Linked DNA regions of Homo sapiens. The protein of the gene in region 1 purifies or fractionates together with the protein of each later gene. This does not show direct contact. Each region holds a gene or a part of one and is shown on either strand. Other genes may lie near its edges. The genes, in order: CTCF, TOP2A and RPL13A.

What was found.
Region 2: the proteins of CTCF (region 1) and TOP2A purify together in Homo sapiens (affinity purification with mass spectrometry; 3 studies listed by BioGRID and IntAct, with this or other methods). This does not show direct contact.
Region 3: the proteins of CTCF (region 1) and RPL13A purify together in Homo sapiens (affinity purification with mass spectrometry; 4 studies listed by BioGRID and IntAct, with this or other methods). This does not show direct contact.

What each region holds. Positions count from the first base shown.
Region 1 is NC_000016.10:67,607,424-67,611,171, reverse strand, and holds part of CTCF (transcriptional repressor CTCF), read right to left. Parts: intron 349-3,748; 5' UTR 340-348; coding exon 1-339.
Region 2 is NC_000017.11:40,415,914-40,419,661, reverse strand, and holds the start of TOP2A (DNA topoisomerase 2-alpha), read left to right. Parts: upstream 1-1,765; 5' UTR 1,766-1,870; coding exon 1,871-1,891; intron 1,892-1,977; exon of another isoform or gene 1,978-2,078; intron 2,079-2,766; coding exon 2,767-2,922; intron 2,923-3,149; coding exon 3,150-3,240; intron 3,241-3,593; coding exon 3,594-3,657; intron 3,658-3,748. UniProt on the Homo sapiens protein: Key decatenating enzyme that alters DNA topology by binding to two double-stranded DNA molecules, generating a double-stranded break in one of the strands, passing the intact strand through the broken strand, and religating the broken strand.
Region 3 is NC_000019.10:49,485,386-49,489,133, reverse strand, and holds the start of RPL13A (large ribosomal subunit protein uL13), read right to left. Parts: upstream 1,527-3,748; 5' UTR 1,505-1,526; coding exon 1,490-1,504; intron 1-1,489. Other genes in the region: FLT3LG (fms-related tyrosine kinase 3 ligand), read right to left, coding at 2,932-3,119. UniProt on the Homo sapiens protein: Associated with ribosomes but is not required for canonical ribosome function and has extra-ribosomal functions.

The DNA.
Region 1 (3,748 bases):
AAGTTCTCCTATGTTTATGGGCTGTTCCTCCATATTTACAACCTGTAAAGTTATAATCTGGGTATCGTCCACAGCAGCCTCTGCTTCTGGAGCCACTGTGCCCTCCATTACTTCAGTCTTCATCTGAAGAAGGGTGGGGTCCAGCTGTTCCATCATCACCATCTGTACACTGCTGTTGACATCCTGGACCACCTCACCCCCATCCGTCTGGTTCTGGGGTAAGTGGCAGGCATCTTCTTCCTGGCCCCCTTCCCGGCGTCTCTGGTAAGTCTTTCTCTCCTTTCCTTTAATAAAAGTTTCGGACTCCTCCACAATGGCTTCGACTGCATCACCTTCCATTTCCCCTGCCTTTATTAAGGGAGAACACAGATTGTTATTTAAAGCAAAGCATGTCTAAATAAAAATATACATTTTAAAACAAAAAGACCCTTTGGTGAATGAATTAGGCATCAATGGTTGTTAATATTAAAAAAGACACAACAGACATGTGCCTCTTGATGAAAGAAACAACCACTACTGGCCAGGTGCAGTGGCTCACGCCTGTAATCCCAGCACTTTGGGAGGCTGAGGCGGGCGGATCACGAGGTCAGGAGATCGAGAACATCCTGGCTAACACGGTGAAACCCCGTCTCTACTAAAAATACAAAAAAAATTAGCCAGGCATGGTGGCGGGCGCCTGTAGTCCCAGCTACTCGGGAGGCTGAGGCAGAAGAATAGCTTGAATCCAGGAGGCGGAGCTTGCAGTGAGCCGAGATTGCACCACTGCGCTCCAGCGTGGGGGACAGAGCAAGACTCCATCTCAAAAAAAAAAAAAAAAAAAAGAAAAAGAAAAAACCACTACCTATAATGCAATTTTGTCAAACAAACTCCAAAACTCTGAAACCAATCAAGTCTCTAGATCCAACCCAATTAACAGGAAATTGGTGACTCAGGATGTTAAATTATACTACAGGGATTAAATCAGTGAAATCCATACCGAGGGAAACACTGCAAGATTATACTCAGGTTCTTCTGCAAATAGATAACAAGAAGAATACAAGGGAAGACTGATTGGAGGGAGAACCAGTAGATCAGTAGTTCTCAGCCTGGGGTGACTTTGCCTCTAGGAACATTTGGCTAACACATTTTTGGTTGTCACTACTGGGCTGGGATGTGCTACTGTTATCTCGTGGGTGAAAGCTAGAGATGCTATTAAACATCCTCCAAGACACAGGTCAGTCCTCCACCACAAAGAATTATCAGGCCAGGCCGGGCACGGTGGCTCACGCCTGTAATCCCAGCACTTTGGGAGGCTGAGGCGGGCAGATTACCGGAGGTCAGGAGATCGAGACCATCCTGGCTAACACGGTGAAACCCCGTCTCTACTAAAAAATACAAAAAAATTAGCCGGGCGTGGTGGTGGGCGCCTGTAGTCCCAGCTCTTGGGAGGCTGAGGCAGGAGAATGGCGTGAACCTGGGAGGCGGAGCTTGCAGTGAGCCAAGATCGCGCCACTGCACTCCAGCCTGGGCGACAGAGCGAGATTCCATCTCAAAAAAAAAAAAAAAAAGAATTATCAGGCCCAAGATGTCAAGAGCACTGAGGCTGAGAAACTCTGATACAGATAAAAGAGTCTTAAAGAGACAGTAATCAATCACAATGCATGAATCTTCTTTGGATCCTGATTCAAACCAATAAATGGTGAAAAAGATGTGACACAAGACAATTAGAAATTTCAACTCTGGATATCTGATGATATTAAAGAATTACTAACAAAACTAATTTAAATCTTACACATGTAGTGGGGAAGACACTGGTAAAGGACATATAATTTCAGTGGGAATAAGTTCAAGAGATCTATTATACAACATGAATATTACAGTTAATAATAACGTATACCTGAAAATAACTGAGAGCAGATTTTTAAGTGTTCTCATCACAAAAAATGACAAGGATGTGAGATGATGCATATATGAATTAGCTTAATTTTCTGCAATTATGGGGTCTTGCCACATTTCCAGACTGGCCTTGAACTCCTGGGCTGAAGCAATCCTCCCACCTAAGCCTCCCAAAGTGCTGGGATTATACATGTGACTGAGCCACTGTGCCCGGGTCTGCCAATGTTTTGTAAAAAGCTTTATTAAGGTAGCTTTATTAAGCACGTGGTGGCTCACGCCTATAATCCCAGCACTTTGGGAGGCTGAGGTGTGTGGATCACCTGAGGTCGGGAGTACGAGACCACCCTGAACAACATGGAGAAACCCCGTCCTAAGTAAAAATACAAAATTAGCCAGGTGTGATGGTGCATGCCTGTATGTAATCCTGGCTACTTGGGAGGCTGAGGCAGGAGAATCGTTTGACCCGGGAGGTGGAGGTTGCGGTGAGCCAAGATTGCGCCATTGTACTGTGCAGCCTGGGCAACAAGAACGAAACTCCGTCTCAAAAAAGAAAAAAAAAAACACTAAATACACCTCCAAAATTTCCTTGTATTTTGTTTTTGGTGATAATATTTATCATGAGATCCATCCTCAACATAATTCAAAGTGCATAATGCTATACGATTAATACAGGAACTATGTTGTGTAGCAGATCTCTAGAACTTACTCATCTTGCATAACTGAAACTTTATACCCACTCAACAGCAATTCCCCATTTTCCCCACCCTGTCAAGGGTTTTTGACCTTGTTTTTTGAAGCCAAACTCAGAACTTAGATCCAGACTGCAATGGCCGTGTTTGTAGACACTGCACAAAACTGCCCATGTCATACCATCAACTTGACATTCACCTCTCTCCTGACAATGAGATCAGGAATTCCCTGAGAATAAGAACCACATCTAACAAGTCGTTTTTTTTTTTTTAATTTTTTTTTTGAGACGGAGTCTCGCTCTGTTGCCCAGGCTAGGGTGCAGTGGCACGATCTCCGCTCACTGCAAGCTCCGCCTCCCAGGTTCACGCCATTCTCCTGCCTCAGCCTCCCGAGTAGCTGGGACTACAGGCGCCCACCACCATGCCCGGCTAATTTTTTGTATTTTTAGTAGAGACGGGGTTTCACCATGTTAGCCAGGATGGTCTCGATTTCCTGACCTCGTGATCCGCCTGCCTCGGCCTCCCAAAGTGCTGGGATTACAGGTGTGAGCCACTGCGCCCAACCGGTTTTTACTTTTTTTTTTTTTTTGAGTCGGAGTCTCGCACTGTCGCCCAGGCTGGAGTGCAATGGCGTGATCTTGGCTCACTGCAACCTCTGCCTCCCAGGTTTAAGTGATTCTCCTGCTTCAGCCTCCGGAGTAGTTGGGATTACAGGTGCCCACCACCACACCTGGCTAATTTTCTGTATTTTTAGCAGATACGGGGTTTCACTATGTTGGCCAGGCTGGTCTTGAACTTCTGACCTCGTGATCTGTCCGCCTCGGCCTCCCAAAGTGCTGGGACTACAGGCGTGAGCCACCACGCCCAGCCACGGTTTTTACTCTTTAGCACTGTGCCCAGGATGGTAAGTACTCAATAAATGCCAACCAAATTGAATATATAATAGAAAGCAGAAAACAAATCAGCCAATTCATAGTTTTTGGCTCTTATATCTTGTGAATGGGCCGGGCACGGTAGCTCACGCCTGTAATCCCAGCACTTTGGGAGGCCAAGGCTGGTGGATCAGTTGAGGCCAGGAGTTCAAGACCAGCCTGGCTAACATGGCAAAACCCCATCTCTACTAAAAATACAAAAATTAGCCAGGCGTAGTGGTGTGCACCTGTAATCCCAGCTACTTGGGAGGC
Region 2 (3,748 bases), on another chromosome or scaffold:
CGAGAGGCTTCCTCCATCGAAATGACACGAATGGCAAATTGCTGAGTTGGGACTGAAACCCAGGTAGAGGAAGGAAGCAATGAATGGAAAGAGGTGGCTCAGCTGGAATTAGTAGGCACTCAAATTGTGCAGTTTTTTTTTTTCTGGCTTCTTGTAAGGGTAATAACTTTGTTTAATCCACTCAAACATTTATATGTAAGAGTAATTTTAAAACTTCAGTCTTCGCCGGGCACAGTGACTCACACCTGTAATCCCAGCACTTTGAGAGGCTGAGGCGGGCAGATCACTTGAGGTCAGAAGTTTGAAACCAACCTGGTCAACATGGCAAAACCCTGTCTCTACTAAAAAAATACAAAAATTAGCCAGGCGTGGTGGCAGGCGCCTGTAATTCTAGCTACACGGGAGGCTGAGGCAGGAGAATCGCTTGAACCCGCGAGGTGAAGGTTGCAGTGAGCCTAGATCGCGCCATTGCACTCCAGCCTGGGCGACAGAGTGAGATTCCATCTCAAAAAAAAAAAAAGCAACAAAAAAACAAGCAAACAAAAAAGCTTCAGTCTTGGCATTTCCTTGTCAAATTGGAACAGCTGTTCTGGACTGCAGGGTTCACGGAGGTGAGCAAAAGTAGCCAGTCGGAGGGTATCTGGCCAGCTGGCTGCGGAAAAGGTTTCAGCCCCGGACGGCTGAGCCCACCCTCAGCTCAAGAGGCTACCACCACAAGTTATCCCTTTCGATTTACCAGTTGCAGTCCAGCGCTGCTCTACTGGGGACCTGAATGCTGCCCTCCATTTTGCAAAGCCTTTCTACATCCTTCCACTATATGGAACCCCCAAACCACAACTGTGGCACTTTTATTTTAATTATTTTTATTATTTATTTATTTATGTATTTATCTCTTGAGGTGGCCTCGCTCTGTCACTCAGGCTGGAGTGCAGTGGAGCAATCACGGTTCAAGGCGCCTCGATCTCCGATCCCCGGGGCTCAAGCGATCCTCCCTCCTCAGCCTCCGGAGCTGGAGTTACAGGTGTGCGATGCCTCGCCTGGCTATTTTTTTTCCTTTTTGGGTAGAGACGGGGTCTCGCTATGTTGCCCAGGCTGGTCTCCAACTCCTAGGCTCCAGCGATCCTCCCGCCTCGGCCTCCCAATGTGCTGCGAATACAGACTCCAGCCACCGCACACAGCCTACTTTTATTTCTTTGAAAAATGAATTCGAGGGTAAAGGGGGCGGGGTTGAGGCAGATGCCAGAATCTGTTCGCTTCAACCAAGCAGCCAGGCTGCCTGTCCAGAAAGCCGGCACTCAGTTTCCTCAGGAAAACGAAGCTAAGGCTCCCATTCCCCTCGCTAACAACGTCAGAACAGAGGACAGTTTTTAGATTTCAGGGATCTTAAATAGATTGGCAGTTCCTGGAGAATAAACATCCTTTGCTTTTCTCCTGCACACTTTTGCCTCAGGCCACCCCTTCCCGCTTCCAAAGCCCATCTCTTCCAAGCTTTCCGCACGAGAAAACAAGTGAGCCCTTCTCATTGGCCAGATTCCCTGTCAATCTCTCCGCTATGACGCCGAGTGGTGCCTTTTGAAGCCTCTCTAGTCCCGCCTCCCTAACCTGATTGGTTTATTCAAACAAACCCCGGCCAACTCAGCCGTTCATAGGTGGATATAAAAGGCAAGCTACGATTGGTTCTTCTGGACGGAGACGGTGAGAGCGAGTCAGGGATTGGCTGGTCTGCTTCGGGCGGGCTAAAGGAAGGTTCAAGTGGAGCTCTCCTAACCGACGCGCGTCTGTGGAGAAGCGGCTTGGTCGGGGGTGGTCTCGTGGGGTCCTGCCTGTTTAGTCGCTTTCAGGGTTCTTGAGCCCCTTCACGACCGTCACCATGGAAGTGTCACCATTGCAGGTACGGCTCGCGGGGGGGACTGGCGGTGGAGCCTCCGCGCGGCCCGGGCATCTCTCTGGCCGCCCGTGACGGGTGAAGCTCTGGGGCTGCGGTCAGGCCGGCGACCGGCTTGGGAGCCCATATTCTCCATTCCCGGTTCCGGGGTGATCGTGGAGAGGCGGAAGCCCCTTCTGGTGCTAGTAGTGAAGTATGACCCGGCTTCCAGGGTGTCGTGCGTTGTTGCCCTGTTTCTAGGGGCAGGAGTCCGTTGGTCCCGTAGTGGATCCATGTTACAGCGGCCCGGGTGCGACGTTATTGAGTCGCGCGTACAGATGCTTTCCCCTCCTGCCCGCTGCTTGAAAACGGTCTTGAATGTCCCCGATCTTGGAAAGGGCAGAGCCTAGCACAGTGTTTCTCTGGAGCAGCTGGCCAGCTTACAAAAGCGCCCCCTTCCTGAGTTCACAACGCTCAGGTGGCCAAGGGATTGAACGGATAGCCGCCCAAACTGCTGCTGCCGAACTAGAATTATTTACGGTGTCGTGTGCTCGGGACACCGTAAATAATTTATAATAATAGGCACTCGGTAAATAATGTATGCAGGAACTGAAAGAAGTGGGTGTATTTTATTGATGACATCTACCATGTTGCTCAAGAAAAGAGGTTTCCAGACAGACCCACTTGGTGAGATAATATGTGTCTGTTTAACCTGACACCTGGGGACCTGGCCGCAGCGAATTTAAATTGTCCTATTTGTACAAAACTGGCAACTCCACCACTGCCTACTAACAGATTGCAATGCATGTTGACATCTCACTATGGTAGGCATTTTGTTCCTAGTTTAGGGTAAACTTATGATTAAAAATTCCCTTCTTTCTCTCTTTTTTTTTAATTGCTAGCCTGTAAATGAAAATATGCAAGTCAACAAAATAAAGAAAAATGAAGATGCTAAGAAAAGACTGTCTGTTGAAAGAATCTATCAAAAGAAAACACAATTGGAACATATTTTGCTCCGCCCAGACACCTACATTGGTTCTGTGGAATTAGTGACCCAGGTAAAATCAAGCTCATCAAAGGCAGTTAACCTAGTAGTTGAAATGGATACTCTTCTTTCTGTACCTTTCATGTACTGAGTGTGACCTTTCTGTATCTCTCATGTACTGAGTGTCACTGGAACTGGCCTAAATATGGTAATACTTAATATGAACACTTTATGGTAATCATGATAACAGAACAATGAATATAGAATAAAAATAACAGTATTTCTTTGCCTTATTTCTAGCAAATGTGGGTTTACGATGAAGATGTTGGCATTAACTATAGGGAAGTCACTTTTGTTCCTGGTTTGTACAAAATCTTTGATGAGATTCTAGGTGAGTAAATCCTTTAATATAAAGATCTGGTCAAATCTTTCATAAGAAGTATCATTCCAAATAAAAATTTAAAAAAGATAAAAGTAAAAACAAAAAGTATCATTTCTACCAAACCTGCTGTAGCCAGGGCTCCTGTCATTTCAATCAGTTGATAAAGGTGAGCTGGTTTCCTGGAGCCCAGGAGGTTGAGCTTCTCGTAGAAACAGTACTATGGACAAAAATTGCTAAATTAACACCTTGTTAATGCCACTCCTGTGCTGTTTGGGAACTTTTTTTTCTATATCTTACTTAGAGTTACAGAATGTTTCTTAAAACACTAATTTCTTACAAATGTATATTTTATTTTCTTTCAGTTAATGCTGCGGACAACAAACAAAGGGACCCAAAAATGTCTTGTATTAGAGTCACAATTGATCCGTACGTCTTTTGCTTAGTTTTTGTTATGTAGCTCGTTGCTATTGTTAGCTGCATGTATTTTGATTACTGGTGAAGTTGGCTTTTCCTAAAC
Region 3 (3,748 bases), on another chromosome or scaffold:
GAATTTCAGGTGGGATGAGATTAGGCAGAGTAGTCAAAAGCCCATGCTAGCTCTGCTATAGAGCACTCTGCTTTCCCCGGTAAACTGCTCAGGCACCGAACCTCAGCTTCCTCCGGAGTAGAAATCCTGGCCGGGCACAGGGGCTCACGCCTGTAATCCCAGCACTTTGAGAGGCCTAGGTGGGCAGATCAGTTGAGGTCAGGAGTTCGAGACCATCCTGGCCAATATGGTGAAACCCTGTCTCTACTAAAAACACAAAAATTAGCCAAGCGTCGTGGCAGGCACCTGCAGTCCCAGGTACTCGGGAAGCTGAGGCAGGAGAATCACTTGAACTTGGGAAGCAGAGGTTGCAATGAGCCAAGATCGCACCATTGCACTCCAGCCTGGGTGTCACAGCGAGACTCCGTCTCAGAAAAAACACTAAAAGTAGAAATCCTCATTGTTTTAATGCAAAAGCATGAAGCACACACTGGTTGTTACACATGCTTTGTAAGCGTTGGTACAAAGACTCTAAAATCCAGACAGACTTCCTGAAGTCGTGACCTTGGCCCAAAATCACCAATTCCAATTTAATTTCCTCCTCTGTAAAACAAGGATACCAGTAACTGCCTCAGGAATATGGTTAACTGAACTACGCAAAACATTGCGAACTGTGCTAGGCACAAAGACACATGCTTGGTGAACACAACTTGCCTAGATCGGCCTGGCTCTGAAATGTCACCCGCCCCAACAACAGACTACTCACAAAGAAACCTTTCCAGGGCCAATCCCTCCTTTATACTTAAGTAGCTACACCAGGAGCCAGGGAAAGGGCCCCCAGGTGTCAGGCCCAAAAGATGTCCCATCCTTGTGGAACCATTCATCACAGCTCTCGACTTCCAGTAACACGCCTCAGGACAATCGCCAATCCCCAAAACGACGGAAAACGAGTTCATTCCAGAGTGCCCCGCAGCCAACAGCTCTCGACCCCCCGCAGAAAGGCATTGAGAATTAAAAGAACCGGAGCTGCAGGGGACCCCGATTAACACCTCCACGTGAAATCAAAGTAGCCCGCGCACTGAGCGGGATAAAAATACCTTCCATTTTGGCCAAAACTCAGTTTCTCATTGCCCCGAGACCGCCCGGCCACACTTCCGCGTGTTCCTCATCGCTGAGGACACACAAGGGTCCAATTCGGCCAAGACTCTACCCCAGGGCCCCCACCCACTACCCGAGTTCAAGGTAAGCAAAATCTAGTTGCAAAATACCTGTCCTGTGCTGGAAGCTCTATCACCCTCGCCTCGAGAAGGAAATGCCACATTGTAGCCAACCCTAGGCCTAAAGAGAGCCGCGGCATTTCCTACAGATTCCCCTTATCCCAAAAGACTTCCATTTTGCTTCATTATGGATGTTAAGCTCCGCAAAACATGCAAGACAGAGAGGGTGCGACCCCATTCCGGCCTGGATCCCACCCGGCCCCTTGCCGCCCCGGCCCGCGCGGAGCCCATACCTGCACCTCCGCCATCTTCGGCAGCCGCTTGGAAAAGGAGGAGGTTTTGTCGCAGGGTTTCTTATCCCTTGAAACAGGGGCGGCAGAAGTGACGCAACGCGGTTGCGCGGACGGCTTCCTGTGTTTTCATTGGTCGAAGCGTTCTGCGCGTGCGCAGAGATTCCCCAGGGAAGGCGGGCCCTCTTCCGAATGTCCAATCCGGACATTCTTCCGGTTGGACCTCCGCGGTCAGCGCTGTGCCCGGCGAGAGATCACGTGGGGCGCGGAGGCGGTGCTGCTGGGGCACGGCCGTCCAGCCTCGGCGGCCATATTTTTGAGGGGCTGTTCATCTCGTTCACACGCTCTGTCCGCCATGTTTGTGAGTGGAAGCGCCATTACCCCTTCAAGCGACTGAAGGCTGCAGGGCCTCTGGTGGCCCGCATGGGGAGACCAGACCCGCCAGGCCCGCCTTTCCGCACTCAGTCCGGGCTTACTTTATTTTGTGAGACAGGGTCTCGCTGTGTTGTCCACACCAGAGTGCTGTGGGGCGATCATGGCTCACCGCAGCCTCCACTTCCTGGGCTCAAGGGATCCTCCTGCCTCAGCCTCTCGAGTAACTTGGACTACAGGGGCGCGCCACCATGCCTGGCTAATATATATATATATATATATTTTGTTGTGGCCCGGGAACGGGGGGAGTCTGACATGTTGGCCAGGCTGATCTCGAACTCCTGGGCTCAAGCGATCCTCCCGTTTCGGCCTCCCAAAGTGCTGGGATTACCGGCGTGAGCCCCGGAGCCTTGCCCATTCTAGGCTTAGAGATTTGGATTCCTGTGTCTGGTCGACTTCACTGTGACCTGGAGAAACCCTTGGCCTTATCTGGGCCTCAGTTTATCCATCTGTAAAACAGATGGAGGTGGTCTTCCCCAGGGGCTCTAAGAGTGGATCAAGGAATGGCTTCTAGTTGCCTGGCTGCACCAATCCACTGAGCGTTCCTCAGAGGAACTTCTCACTTTCTGGACTGTCGGCCTTTGCTTCAGCTGGGTCCCTTGCCCAGGATGCCCTCCCCACCCCCTCCAAATCTGGCTTGTCACCATCGCAATGCCATTTGGCTCTGGAAAGCCTCTCTGCTCTCCCTGCCTGGGTGAGTTGCCCCTCACACTGCCTCTGTTTTATCTCCATAGTAGCCTATGGCATCCTGCACCCAGGCTCGCTGAATCCCTTGTCTTCTCGTCCATAGCCAAGGAGACCTGGGGCACCTGGGCTGGTTCTGACTCAAATCCAGGCTCTGACATTGCCCAGCGCCGGCCCGGGGCTCCAGGGGACCTCAGAAAACACGTATTGAATGAAACATTGCATTGCAATTCAAAAACCAAGATTCTGAAATCAAAACTACCCCATTCACACCCATCCATAGACAGACCTGGCCAGAGCTGGTAGAAAAGGATGATTTATATACAATTTCATGGGGACAAGGGCTTTGTACAGAGTTGGGTAAATGGGGCCGGTGCTGGATTCTGGCGTTGCCTCCATTCTGGGGAGGGAATGAGAGGGGCCCAAGGAAGGGACCGGCCTCTAGCCAACTTCCTCTGTGTCCAGGCTATGCATCCTCTGGCTGGTGACTCCCCTCTGTGTGCCTCAGTATCCTCCCCTGTAAAATGGGATGATAGATGTCTGTCTCACTGCGTTGTTTAAGGCTCCGCTGAGAGAGGAGAGGGAAAGTAGCTTAGCTTGGGGCGGGCCACAGATTTATGCCCAAAACAACTCCATTCCCAGCAAGCGCTTACTATGTGCTAGGGCATTGCTGTCCAAGAGAACGTGGCCATGATAGAAATGTTCCCTATATTTCCCCGGGCGCGGTGGCTCATGCCTATAATCCCAGCAGTTTGGGAGGCTGAGGCTGGTGGATCACCTTAGGTTGGGAGTTTGAGACCAGCCTGACCAACAGGGAGAAACCCCATCTCTACTAAAAATACAAAATTAGGGCCAGGCACAGTGGCTCACGCCTGTAATTCCAGCACTTTAGGAGGTCGAGGCGGGCGGATCACCTGAGGTTGGGAGTTTGAGACCAGCCTAGCTAACATGGAGAAACCGTTTCTACTAAAACTACAAAATTAGCTGAGGCAGGAGAATTGCTTGAACCCGGGAGGCGGAGGTTGCAGTGAGTCGAGATTGCACCATTGCACTCCAGCCTTGGCAATAAAAGCAAAAGTCTGTCTCAAAAGAAAAAAACAAAAACAAAAACAAAATTTGCTAGGCATGGTGGTGCATGTCTGTAAT